Linked DNA regions of Homo sapiens: region 2 is linked to region 1. The links come from fine-mapping of genetic effects on gene expression. Tissue or cell type: whole blood. Region 1 holds a variant in brackets; the other region holds the start of a gene. All regions are shown on one strand. Distances are between the middles of the regions.

Region 1 (7,526 bases):
AGAGCCCGCGTCTGGTCCAGAGTAACTCCCTCTGTCCAGGTCCGGAACAGTGTCTCAACTGGCCAGGCGGTGGCAGTGGAGCTGCTTCTGACCCTGCAGCTGGTGCTCTGTGTCTTCGCTTCCACCGACAGCCGTCAGACATCAGGCTCCCCGGCCACCATGATTGGGATCTCTGTGGCACTGGGCCACCTCATTGGGGTAAGGAACAGAGGGGACACCGTGCACATGCACACACCGGGTCCGTCCCCGGGGAAACTGTGGAGCCCTGAAGGCCAGGCAGTGTCCCTCCCTGAGCCCCTCGTGCCTTGGAGCCAAAGTGGTACCCCCTGCACTCTAGGCCCAGGATATGGCACTACAGAGGCCGTGGCTGGGGCTAAGGCTCTGAGCCAGGACTGAGAAATGGTCCCCTCTCAGGCCTGCCTTAAACCTTCTCCCACCCTGACCCTGCACTTGCTCCCCAGATCCACTTCACTGGCTGCTCCATGAATCCAGCCCGCTCCTTCGGCCCTGCCATCATCATTGGGAAGTTCACAGTCCACTGGGTGAGCCCCTCTGCTGGCAGCCCTGGGGAGGGAAGGGAGCCTGAGTTGCCTGTAGACGGTGGGTTTCACTTGCAGCTTCCCTAAGCTCAGAAGGCCAGGGTGAATGTCTTGGCTGAGACTTCCTTTCTTTTCGGCTTCAGTTGCCCAGGATACCCAGTGGACTGGCAAGAAATGGGCCAGGGCAGGAGCTGCAGCCTTGGCCCAGACTTTTAAGTCCTGGCTGTTTCCTTATTCACTTTCTCCAGCTGGACCAATTTTCAAACTTGGATAAAGAAAAAGACAAACAGAAATAGACACACACACCAGCAGAGACAGAAACAGCAATAGCCAGGACTCCTGGCTAAAACGGGGGAAGTGAGAGGAAAGAGGCGGGGGCGGGTGAGGAGACTGGCCCCAGGCCCCAGCCACGGCTGCAGAGCCTGGGCTCAGCCCCAGGGAGGGCAGGGAGAGCAAGGGGCAAGGTCCCCTTACCTTGTGGGCTTGGGAAACACGACTCGTGGTTCTCAAATTTAGCACCTTACAGACAGTTGAGGGAGACCTGGGAGATCAAGTCGGCACTGGGGAAGCAGGCAGCGGTCCCAGAGCCACCCTGTGGTCCTGATAGCTCCTGGGTGGGGTGACGACATCCTTCTCCTCAGGTCTTCTGGGTGGGGCCCCTGATGGGAGCCCTCCTGGCCTCACTGATCTACAACTTCGTCCTGTTCCCCGACACCAAGACCCTGGCGCAGCGGCTGGCTATCCTCACAGGCACCGTAGAGGTGGGGACAGGGGCAGGGGCAGGGGCGGAGCCCCTGAAGAAGGAATCCCAGCCGGGTTCGGGAGCCGTGGAGATGGAGAGTGTGTGAAACAGCCTACGCCTGGCCGCGCCCTTGGGCTTCCTGCCTTGCAGGACCTGCCTGGAGGTTCTCCCTGGGGGTGGCGGGAGGGGGAGGCTTGACCTTTTGTCCTGACCAGGTGGGCTGGAGGGGACAAGCCCTATCCCTGGCATTACGTTTCTAGGTAGAATCTGGGAGTGAATTTGTCCCATTCCCTCTCTGTAGGGCTTCCCCACCTCTCGGTGGGACAGAGCAGAGGAAGGCAGGGGATTTAGGATCGCCCTCCCATCCTCTCACCCACTGGACCCCGTAGGAGTCCTGACCCCAGATGCCCAAGTCTTGGGGGAGAAAGGAATGGGAGCCCAGACAGCCACTCTGCTTAGACATGGGAGCTATAGGGACCTCAGGGAGCCCCAGCTTCTTACCCACCCAGGAAACCCTTGGTCCAGAGAGGACAGGCTTTCTGGAGGAATCAGGCCCTGGGACAGCCTCTGAGCTCCTGGGGGTGTTTCTCTGACCTTGGGTGTGGTTTTGGGGGCTATATTTCCTCCTTCAGACTGGGGGCTTCCTGAGGACAGAGACTGCTCTACCAATAGATCTTTGTTTGTTTTGAGACAGAATCTTGATCTGTTACCCAGGCTGGAGTGCAGTGGCATGATCTCGGCTCACTGCAACCTCTACCTCCTGGGTTCAAGGGATTCTCCTGCCTCAGCCTCCCAAGTAGCTGGGATTACAGGCGCCTGCCACCACGCCCAGCTAATTTTTTGTATTTTTAGTAGAGATGGGGTTTCATCATATTGGTCAGGGTGGTCTCAAACTCCTGACCTGAGGCGATCTGCCCACCTCGGCCTCCCAAAGTGCTGGGATTACAGGCGTGAGCCACCGTGCCCGGCCTCTCCCAATAGGTCTTTATTCCTCAATCCTCCAAATGCTCTGGAGAGGCCCCCACCCTTGAGAAGAACTGACACAGAGAAGAACATTTTCTCAGGCTCGTAGAGAGGTGGGATAGAGGAAGGGAGGTTTGAGCCAGACAGGCCTTTCCCAGGGAAGCCTCCTCCCAGGTGCTTGCCCCAGCTCCCACCCCACAGCCCACTCTCAGGCAGGAACAATCCTCAGAGGGGAAGTGCCCATCTAGCCATTGACTCATGACCTGGGTCAAAGAAGCCGTCTCCAGGCTCTCTGTCAGCATTACAGGATCCCCAGAAAGCTGTTGAATAAGCCCTAAGGGTGGTAGGAACCCAGGAGGGACCCAGGAAACTAAGATTTGAGATTCAGTGCCTCTGAAAGACTACCAAAATCTAAGTTGGTTTAATAGTTAAAAGCTGCTGTAGATTTATTCTGCCCACAACTTGGGGGT[C/A]CTTTCTGGATCTCGGCTTCTCCAGCTGTAAAATGGACACACAATCCTCCTCCAGGGACTGCTGTGAAATCAAGAAATCGGAAAATACTTTCAGAAGTTAAAATGCTAGAAAAACAACCCCAATAAATGATGATTATTGTTGCTGTTACTGTAATTATTGGGTATGAAGACAATTGCTGTTGGTAATGAGAGGGAGGAGGGGAAAAGAGAGAGAGAAAGATGATTGAGAGGGAGGGAAGAGAGACTGGGTTTTCTCTCACATCATTGGATCTACTTAACCAGGGACCCTGTGTGCTCTTCTCCTGGGTCTGCTGACCTTGAGGCTTTGTGGGTGTGAGGGGCTGTGGGAGGGCCCTGGAATGAAGAGGCGAACCAATAAAATCAGTTCTTCTCATCTCTATGACGCCCATCACCATGGTACCCTAAGATGCAGCAGCCAAATTCATATAAAAGATGGGTCCTGGCGGCCAGGCACGGTGGCTCACGCCTGTAATCCCAGCACTTTGGGAGGCTGAGGCGGGCAGATCACGAGGTCAGGAGATCGAGACCATCCTGGCCAACATGGTGAAACCCTGTCCCTACTAAAATATAAAAAATTAGCCGGGCGTGGTGGCGCGTGATTGTAGTCCCAGCTACTTGGGAGGCTGAGGCAGGGGAATCACTTGAACCCGGAAGGTAGAGGTTTCAGTGAGCCAAGATCACGCCACTGCACTCCAGCCTGGTGACAGAGCAAGACTCTGTCTCAAAAAAAAAAACAAAAAAAACAAAACAAAAGATGGGTCCTGGCCTGGTGCAGTGGCTCCCACCTGTAATCCTAACACTTTGGGAGGCCAAAGTGGGAGGATCGCTTGAGGCCAGGAGTTCGAGACCAGCCTGGACAACATGGCAAAACCCTGCCTCTACAAAAAATTAAAAACTTAGCCAGGCATGACGGCTCAAACCTGTAATCACCAACATGTTGGGTGGCCCAAGCAGGAGGATTGCTTGAGGCCAGGAGTTTGAGACCATCCTGGGCAGCATAGTGAAACTTCATCTCTATTATTTAAAATGAAAAATTAATTAAATTAAAATACAAACAAAAGATAGATCCTTTTTAGTGATGTCTCCTGAGGGACTGGGGATGGGGGAAAGGCTGCCCAAGTCTTCCAAGGGCAGTGTGGCAGGCCCAGCCTGTGACCAGTGCAGTAGCTGAATCCCTGGTGCTCATAGCCCCAGTAGCTGTGCTCAGCGTTCTGTAATATCAGCGCAGATACTACTCACATCTCTCCAAGCTGGGCCCCACTCATCCATCTTCACAATCTCTCAGAGTCCAAGGCTGCCTGTGTCCTTTTATGAGCAGGGAGAGCTGGGTGTCTGTATGTATGCATGTATGAGAGCGTATGTGTAAACAGAGGACATGATTGACTTGCTCAAGGTCACCTGGTTCAGGAGCACGAACACTTAAGGTCTCCCCAGCTCCCAGTTGAGAATTTTCCAAAATAGAGCTCCTGGGGGGTTCATACAAGCTGCAGCCCCAGGAAGGAAGGAAACAGGAACTAGAGGATTGAAGGGGATGGGGGCGTGGAGCTCCTATGGTAGGCTCTTAAGCTCCTTGACAAATGATCACTGCTTTTTGTCCCCAGAGCCAAGCACACACTGGGTGCTCAATATAAGTTTGATGAATGAATAAGGCTGGGCAGTTGGGGAGGATGGGAGGCAGTAATAGATCAAGAGGAGAAAATTTCAGGAGTTACAGCTCCAAATAAGCCAGTATGACAGCAGCTGAGAAGCCTATGCTTCCAGGCAGGGGCTGGGGAGAGGGTGCATCGCCAGATATTTGCTGTTCCACCCACAATTTCAGAGCAGGCTTCACAATGTCTGTCCCAGGAACATACAGGCCAAAATATGAGGGGTTGCCTGAAGAGAAAGCTGAGGGGCTATTTTCACTAACAGTTCTTCAAAGCAGTTCTGTCAGGACAGAGCAGGAGGAAATAAGTTTCCTGAGAAGTGGGGAATTAGGTTAGCCTCTGAAGAGCATCCAAGGTTAGACGTGGAAATAAGTAACCAAAGGTTCGCTTCCCCTCCTCTGGAGCCCTTTAATAGGACAGCAGGCCATCTGTTTGGATGAGGGAAGGGCTGGCCTTTGGAGAGCTGAATCTCAGTAGCTCCAGCTGGGGGAAGCAGGCTTCATTGGCATAGCCCCTGGGCCTGGGTGGGGGCAGGGGACATGGGGAGGACAGAGACCCAACCAGGCCAGCCCTTGGTGTGCATTCCCTTCCTCCTGTTTGTCAGGGAAGTTTTTAATTAATGGTGTATAATCTGATCTGACCCTTCTCCCTGCTGAGCACTGCCTTCAATCAGTGGAGCCATCTGCAATTGCAATTCATAATTCTCCCCAAAGGGAGGGGGACTCGGGCCGGGTGCCTTGGTGATTAATACAATTAGCCTTTTATGTTGATGATTGTCTTAGCAGGAGCAGATGATGCTGTGCTGGGAGCCTGGGCGGTCGCGTCCCGATTGGCTGGCAGGAAGCCCCTCTCCGCTTCCCACCCCCACTTTTCATCTTCGATCTACTACCTCCAGGTATAAAGAGGACAGGCCTCATCTGGGGTCATACTGTGCAAGGGGGAAAAGGCCAGGAAGGGGTAGGGCTCTGAGCCACATTTGGTCTCCTAGGACTGAAGGAAGAGTAGAGTCACACCATGATCTGGGCGCTTTTACATTCCAAAGAAAATCACTTTCACCTAAAGGATTGTGCGGACCAAAGTTAAAAAAAAAAAAAAAAACTACATAAACATAGATCGGGAGTTGACAGAGTTTAAATACAGGCTCAGGCACTTAGCAGCTGTGTGAACTTGGGCAAGTTACTTAAGGATCCTGAGCCTCACTTTCCTCATCTGGAGGATGGAGTACAGTCAAAAGGGAGCTGGAAGAACTACATGAGATGTGTGTGTGTTTCACACCATGCCTGACAGGCAGTCAGATCTCAATCAGTGGTAGCTATTTTTACCACCATCATGATCGCGGTATTGCATTCTGTCTACCATAAGTTCAGCTACTTCCCCTGCAGTTTCTAATGAGGCCTGGGCTATTACTAAAGAAGGGATCACATCCTTCCCATACCCCAGGCTTAGCTTGAGCTGAGGGGGGACGGGGGGAGAGAGTTTATGAGTGTATTTGGGGGAAAGGGGGAATCACAGAAGAGGAGTCAAGAATTAAAACATAAGAATTAAACACAAGAAAGAGGCCGGGCTCTAACCACACACCTGTAATCCCAGCACTTTGGGAGGCCAAAGCGGGTGGATCACTTGAGGTCAGGAGTTTGAGACCAGCCTGGCCAACAAGGTGAAACCCCATCTCTACTAAAAATACAAAAATTAACCAGGCGTGGTGGCACATGCCTGTAATCCCAGCTACATGGGAGGCCGAGGCAGGAGAACTGTCTGAACCTTGGAGGCAGAGGTTGCAGTGAGCCGAGATCACGCCACTGCACTCCAGCCTGGGCGACAGAGCAAGACTCAGTCTCAAAAGAAAAAAAGAGAGCGAGAAATAAGGGCCTTCTCATAACGGAGAAGTGGAGCACTGAAGTGATCACACTGGGAGAGTTGGGAGACTCCAGGAATGGAGGTAAGAAGTCTGGGTGGGGTGGAAAAGAGGTGAAAAGAAGCAGAGCTTTGAAGATTAGGAATTTCACATGAAAGCTAAGTAAACAAAAAGGGAGCTGACATCAGAGCTGAGAGTTAAAGGGGTAACACAGACCAAAATCACTGTGATCGATAATGAGGTCAAGGGATCTGAAACAAGCAGATCTGGGTTTTGATGGGAGACTCCACCAGGTCAGGGGAGGGGATCAGCTAAGTTCCTCTGGCCCCACAGTGCTGTTTTCTGTGCCCCGGAGCAACCCCAGGGAGTGCCGCGAGAAGAGAGATCGATGCTTGATACTAAGAGGGATTTTAACTGACAGCTTAGTGCCAGGCCCTCTCAATGTCAGAGAGGAAGATGGGGAGGGAAGAAGGGAGGGAAGAAGTTAAGGGCTAATCAAGATGAAGCATCTGGCCAAGCTGTGACCTCTCTGGGCAGCTGTGGCAGGGGGTCAGCATAGCCAAGATCCGTAATCACTTCTCAGGGAGCGGCAGCTACACTACAGCGCAGTCACATATTTAGCAAAAGCTGGGGAGGCAAGGCATGGTTAGTGAATGGGGTTTATGGGAGTGGGGAGTCCAATAGCACTAATTAATAGGCTGCAGTTAATTAGCAGAAAAGGGGGAAATGAAAAACAATGTTTCAGAGCTCTGATTGAAACCCATAAAGGGGCAGCTATTGCCAGAGCTGCAGGTGGAGGAGGCCAGAGACAAAGGCAGGGACAAATAACTCCCGCTCCACCCCCATGGACAGATGAAACAAGCTCCAGCCAGGCCAGCGTGTGGCAGGCCAGGTCTCACTAATGCAGGCCTCCATAACAACTGTTTCAGTACTCACTGAGTGGTTAAGTTAAATATTAAAAGCTAAGACAGCCAGTGCCCTTATACAAAGGCTGGAATATAACAAACGGCCACCAGGAGTTTTGCCTAGGTTGCTAGGAACGGTGGCTCACGCCTGTAATCCCAACACTTTGGGAGGCCGAGGCAGGTGGATCACGAGGTCAGGAGATCGAGACCATCCCAGCTAACACGGTGAAACCCCGTCTCTACTAAAAATACAAAAAATTAGCCAGGCATGGTGGCGGGCGCCTGTAGTCCCAGCTCCTCGGGAGGCTGAGGCAGGAGAATCGTTTGAACCTGGGAGGTGGAGGTTGTGGTGAGCACCACTGCACTCCAGCCTGGGCAAAAAGAG
Region 2 (5,301 bases), 80 kb after region 1:
GCCTCCTGAGTAGCTGGGATTACAGGTGCGTGCCACCACGCCTGGCTAATTTTTGTATTTTCTGTGGAGGCAGGGTTTCACCATGTTGGCCAGGTTGGTCTCCTGACCTCAGGTGATCCACTCACCTCGGCCTCCCAAAGTGCTGGGATTGCAGGCGTGAGCCACCACGCCTGGCTGGCATTGCAGTTTTATCTTATTATTTTTATTTTTTGAAATGGAGTTTCGCTCTTGTCTCCCCGGCTAGAGTGCAATAGCACAATCTCGGCTCACTGCAACCTCCGCCTCCCAGGTTCAAATGATTCTCCTGCCTCAGCCTCTCGAGTAGCTGGGATTACAGGTGCCCGCCACCACGCCCAGCTACTTTTTGTATTTTTAGTAGAGATGGGTTTCACCATGTTGGCCAGGTTGGTCTCAAACTCCTGACCTCAGGCGATCCACCCTCCTCTGCCTCCCAAAGTGCTGGGATTACAGGAGTGAGCCACCGCGCCCAGCTGGCATTGCAGTTTTAAAAGCTCCCCAGGTGATTCGAATGTGCAGCCTGGGTTAAGAACCAGTGCCTTAGATTCTGCCCTGGTTTGGCTGCACTGGTGGTTTTACCACTAGATCCAAATGCTAATACTAATAATAGTTATTTACTTATTGGGATTTACTAGGTACATGCCAATGTACTAAGCACTTTCCATGCGTTAGCTCATGTAATCCTCGAAAAATCCTGTGAAATAAATATTATCTCTGCCTTACAGATGAGGAAACCGAGGTCCAGAGAGGTCAAGGGGCCTGCCTATGCTAATGAATGGCAGGGCCAGGTCTGGAAGCTGATTCTCCTGATTCATACCTTCTGTCTTCCCCCAGACTCCTCCTGAGGCTGCTCCTTGGCCTCAATCAGTCCTCGCCTGCCTCCACCTCACCTCATCACCTTCCCTCCACCCCCGCTGCTCCCTCAGTAACATCCCAGGTGACTGAAGCAATTGCAGCCATTTGAAGAGGCTCCACGTGTCAGTCAGCCTGCGAGCCGCGGGGAGGTGGGGAAATTACAGATGCTCCAAAATAGTGTTCCCCTCCCCCTGAGGATATTTGGAATTCAGGAATCAGACTCTGCCTGATGCTTCCTCAGGTCTCTGGGACCCTCCCAGGTGATTTCCCACTCTCAAATGCCCCCCACGAGTTGATTCTAAGTATCTGGGAGAGGGCTGCCACCCAGTGGCTGCCCGGGGGCATAGCAACCCTCCAGCACTGCCTGGTACCGCTGAACAGCTCCCCAAGACCTGAATGGAAGATCCTCCCTTCCTTTTGGCAGCTCCGTGTCCAGTCCCCTAGTAAATGGATCTCGACCTCCCTCCTCCACAATCTTAAGTCCACTCTCCCACTAGGGACCTCCAGACCCCTTCTCTGGTTTCCTAGATGTCCACTACTCCCAACTTCTCATCCAACTTCTTTCCAATGTGCCATCCCCTTCTCGTTACAGGTTTTCTTCTAACTTAAAGCCCGGCACCATGTCCTAGGAATACACCTCTCACCATCCTTCTCCCCGAGCCGCACCAGCCTGCAAGTAGAGCGAAGGAGCCACTAGAGACAGAACTCTGGTCCCCCGCACCCTCCTCCTCATCATCTGACACCATCAGACCTCAACAGCCTCTGTGCTAAGAGCCCCTAATGAGCATCAGCAAATTAACAACTTCCCCTTGATTGCTCCTTCTCTGTTAATTGGATAGGGAGGGCCCCCCTCCCCAAGGCCTCTCAGAGAAGAGGAGGGAGGCAGGGAAGGAGAAAGGTGAGAGCCACAGGAGCAGCCCCCAGGCCTGCGTTCTGTGCTGAGACTTCTGCTCCATCCCTGAGCATAGCTCCCCGTTCCAACCCTTCCTCACCCTGTCCCCTTCACTCCCTTTGCCTCCTTCCTTCTGTCCAAATTCCCTTGACCTCTGGCTATTTTTCCTTCCTTTTCTCTGCTCCTTCTTTGGAGATTTGGCAGTAAGGGGTTGCGACCATGCCCCCCACAAGCCCAAAGCTACAAGGATGGGATCTGAGTGGTCAAGGCTGCGTGTTGGCTCACATATGTGCACGTGTATATGTGTCACATGCAGGTGGGAGCAGGGATAAGAGCAGGTGAGTGCTTGCCATGTGGGTCAGGCCCCCGGGATACGTGGACATCTGTTGCGGGGGGGTGTGGTTGTGAATGGTGTGGTGTGACTCTGGTCGGTATGTGTGTCTGTCTCCATATGGGCTAAGTGCTTGAATTAGTCAAGTGTGACTCGGAGCGTGTGTGTGTATGTGTGTGTGTACGCGCGTGTGTGCCACCAGAGGAAGCAGCAGCAAGAGGCAGGAGCATCGATCCGAAGGAGACAGCGCGGGGAGAGGGACGCTAGGGGCAGACACCCTCCCTCCTGCGCGCACACACGCGCGCGCGCACACACACCACACACAGAGTCATACACACAAGCCATAGGGCCTCGCAGGCAGGGAGACGGCTCCGGGACTGGAGAGAGGCAGCGCCGCCGAAAGCGGCCGCGAGGAGGGGCGAGGCGGCGCGGGGAGCCCTGGGTCCCGCTCCCGGATCCGGGGCCCCGCGCGCACACCAGCCCAGAGACAGCCTCGCAGACACTCGTAGGCGCGCACGCGCACCCTCTCCCCTCCCCCTCCCCTCCCGCCGCCTCCCGGCCGGACGATGGATCCCTGCAGATCCCAGGGCTGAGAGCACCGCGCACCGCGCCGAGCCCGGGCAGACCGAGCCGAGGCGAGCGAGCCAGCGAGCCAGCGCGCGCGGGCGGGCGGACAGATCGGAGCCGAGCGGGGCCGGGCGGGGCGCTCCCTGCAGGGCTCTGCGCGGCGTGCCGCGGCGGCCGCGGGCTCCGGCCCCGGGCCATGAGCCCCTCCGCGACTCGGCGCTGAGCCCGCCACCGGTCCAGCGCCCCAGGACCCGCCGCCGGCTGCCGGCTTGCCGAAGCCCCCTCAGGTGGGTTTCCGATACCCCTGCCTTTGGCCGCGAGGCTCCTCGGTACCCCGAAGCCGGGACTCTCCTCCCTCTGGATTTCCCTTGCTGCTGGGGCGGCTCGGTGGCTGGGGAGGGGGGCGGGGGCCGAGCTGGGGATCTGACTGCGACGAGAAGCTGGACTGGGGGGGGCTGCGTCCGGGGCGGGGACAGCTCGCTGTCATAGGGAACCGCGCCCCCCCTCCATACATCCACCTCGGGCAGCCCGCCACCCCCCACTCCCAACATACACACAGCCTGCGCTTATGTGAGAACTGGAGACACCCGCAGGTGAGGACTCAGGCTGGGCCCCTCCCTAGATGTAGCCACCTCCCTGGGGGTTTTCTGGCCCCAGTTTAGCCCTTAGGACCACAGCCCCGTCCAGGGAATACCCGTGACCAGGACAGGAGCTCCTTACCCCGGGGTCAGCCCATCTGGGTGAGTTTTCATCTCCAGGATGGGGTGGATATTCTTGTCCCAGAGTGACCCCACATCTGGAGGGAACTCCTGCGCCTGCCTATGGGTGCATCAGGACTTCCCCCTCAACCTCGGATGACTATATCTGGGGTCTCCCCGGGCCTGGGAAGCTTCTCTGGGGAGCATTCTCTTGGCCTGACCTGACCCCCTGTGCCTCTGTATTTGGAGGAACCCTGGATGTGTCCCTTGGTCAGCCACCTCTGGGCTTGCAAAGCAGGGAAGTCTTCTGCCCGAGGAGTGGTGACCTCTGGAGATGAGGATTCTGGATGGGCACATGTGGAGGGGCTCCATGTGTACTTTCATCCCAGGACAATGATAGACTGTCCCTCCCTCCTCCCCCAGGATCCCCTCAACAAGGATGGAACTGAAGGCCGAGGAGGAGGAGGTGGGTGGCGTCCAGCCGGTGAGCATCCAGGCCTTCGCCAGCAGCTCCACACTGCACGGCCTGGCCCACATCTTCTCCTACGAGCGGCTGTCTCTGAAGCGGGCACTGTGGGCCCTGTGCTTCCTGGGCTCCCTGGCTGTGCTGCTGTGTGTGTGCACGGAGCGTGTGCAGTACTACTTCCACTACCACCATGTCACCAAGCTCGACGAGGTGGCTGCCTCTCAGCTTACCTTCCCTGCTGTCACGCTGTGCAACCTCAACGAGTTCCGCTTTAGCCAAGTCTCCAAGAATGACCTGTATCATGCTGGGGAGCTGCTGGCCCTGCTCAACAACAGGTGGGTGGCTCCCACCCTCCCTCAGCCCTGCTCCTGGAGTTGCTTGAGTTCCAGTCAGGATGTCTGCCTCCCTGACCCACCATAGAGCCCAGCCAACCCTGCCCTTTAACCCACCCCCACCCCCAAACCTGCCACTCACAGCAGAGGAGTTAGGGTGCTGCTGAGCACCCAGTTAAGGGCACCCAGCCTCCGATCCCAGCATAGTCCAGAACAGCTCGACCCCCACCCAGCCTGAGGTATGAGACATTGTCACCCTCTCTGGAGTGAGCTTTACCTTCATTCTGGCCACTCTGTCTTGACCTTCTCGTCAGTTGGGGGATGGGGACAGAACATCTTTAAAGGGTAGAAACTACAGTATAAAAGCCACAGCCCCTGCCTTGTCTCTCTGCCCACCTTATCCATGCTTCCTCTCACCCATGTGCTGGGATGGGATGCCCTGCCCCTGGGCAGCCACTACAGTTCCTCCTGTCATTTCAGACCCATGTGGTAGAGCCTCTGCATGCCCAGCTCTCCTTCCTTGCCTACACCTGGGACTGATCCCCAGGGCTGGAGGCTGCCCCCATCACCCAAGTTGGGTGCAGGACACTGATGACTGTACTGACCCGTGTGTCACTCACCCCCGGACCCCAGGTATGAGATACCAGACACACAGATGGCAGATGAAAAGCAGCTGGAGATACTGCAGGACAAAGCCAACTTCCGCAGCTTCAAACCCAAACCCTTCAACATGCGTGAGTTCTACGACCGAGCTGGGCACGACATTCGAGACATGCTGCTCTCCTGCCACTTCCGGGGGGAGGTCTGCAGCGCTGAAGACTTCAAGGTGGTGAGTCCCCTCGTGTGGGGTGTGAGTCAGCCTGGCCCACAGAGGAGGAGGAGGAGACAAGGAGCAGGCTGGGCCTCTCCGGGTGCTTGCTACTCTGGGAGAGGAAGTTGTATGTCCTGGGGTTTGCTTCTAGTAGAAGGGGAGTTTGTTCAGCATAGGGGCACATTTGCACTCACTGCATGAGCACCTGAGCCTCAGCCTTGCAGCCATGATGGCAGGAAAGAGAGCCTACAGTGCACAACACACACATATATGCACACACGTGCGTGGTCTGGCATAGCCACAAACCCACCAAGCTTACCTTCTAGGCCAC

What was found. PIP is the estimated chance that this variant, and not a neighbour inherited with it, causes the effect.
Region 2: it holds the start of ASIC1, and the variant in region 1 is fine-mapped to the expression of ASIC1 in whole blood (TOPMed, PIP above 0.99).

What each region holds. Positions count from the first base shown.
Region 1 is chr12:49,974,285-49,981,810 of GRCh38, forward strand. It overlaps AQP6 (aquaporin 6), which reads left to right. Exons shown (of 4, transcript NM_001652.4): 2 at 40-198; 3 at 462-542; 4 at 1,181-2,855. The coding sequence ends at 1,387. LOC105369764 (a long non-coding RNA gene) reads right to left here and starts at 1,221. Exons shown (of 3, transcript XR_001749143.2): 1 at 1,014-1,221. The variant C/A (reference allele first, on the strand shown) is at 2,715.
Region 2 is chr12:50,054,967-50,060,267 of GRCh38, forward strand. It overlaps ASIC1 (acid sensing ion channel subunit 1), which reads left to right and starts at 2,630. Exons shown (of 12, transcript NM_001095.4): 1 at 2,630-2,950; 2 at 3,785-4,162; 3 at 4,793-4,988. The coding sequence starts at 3,801. RefSeq lists silencers at 2,433-2,592, 2,663-2,832.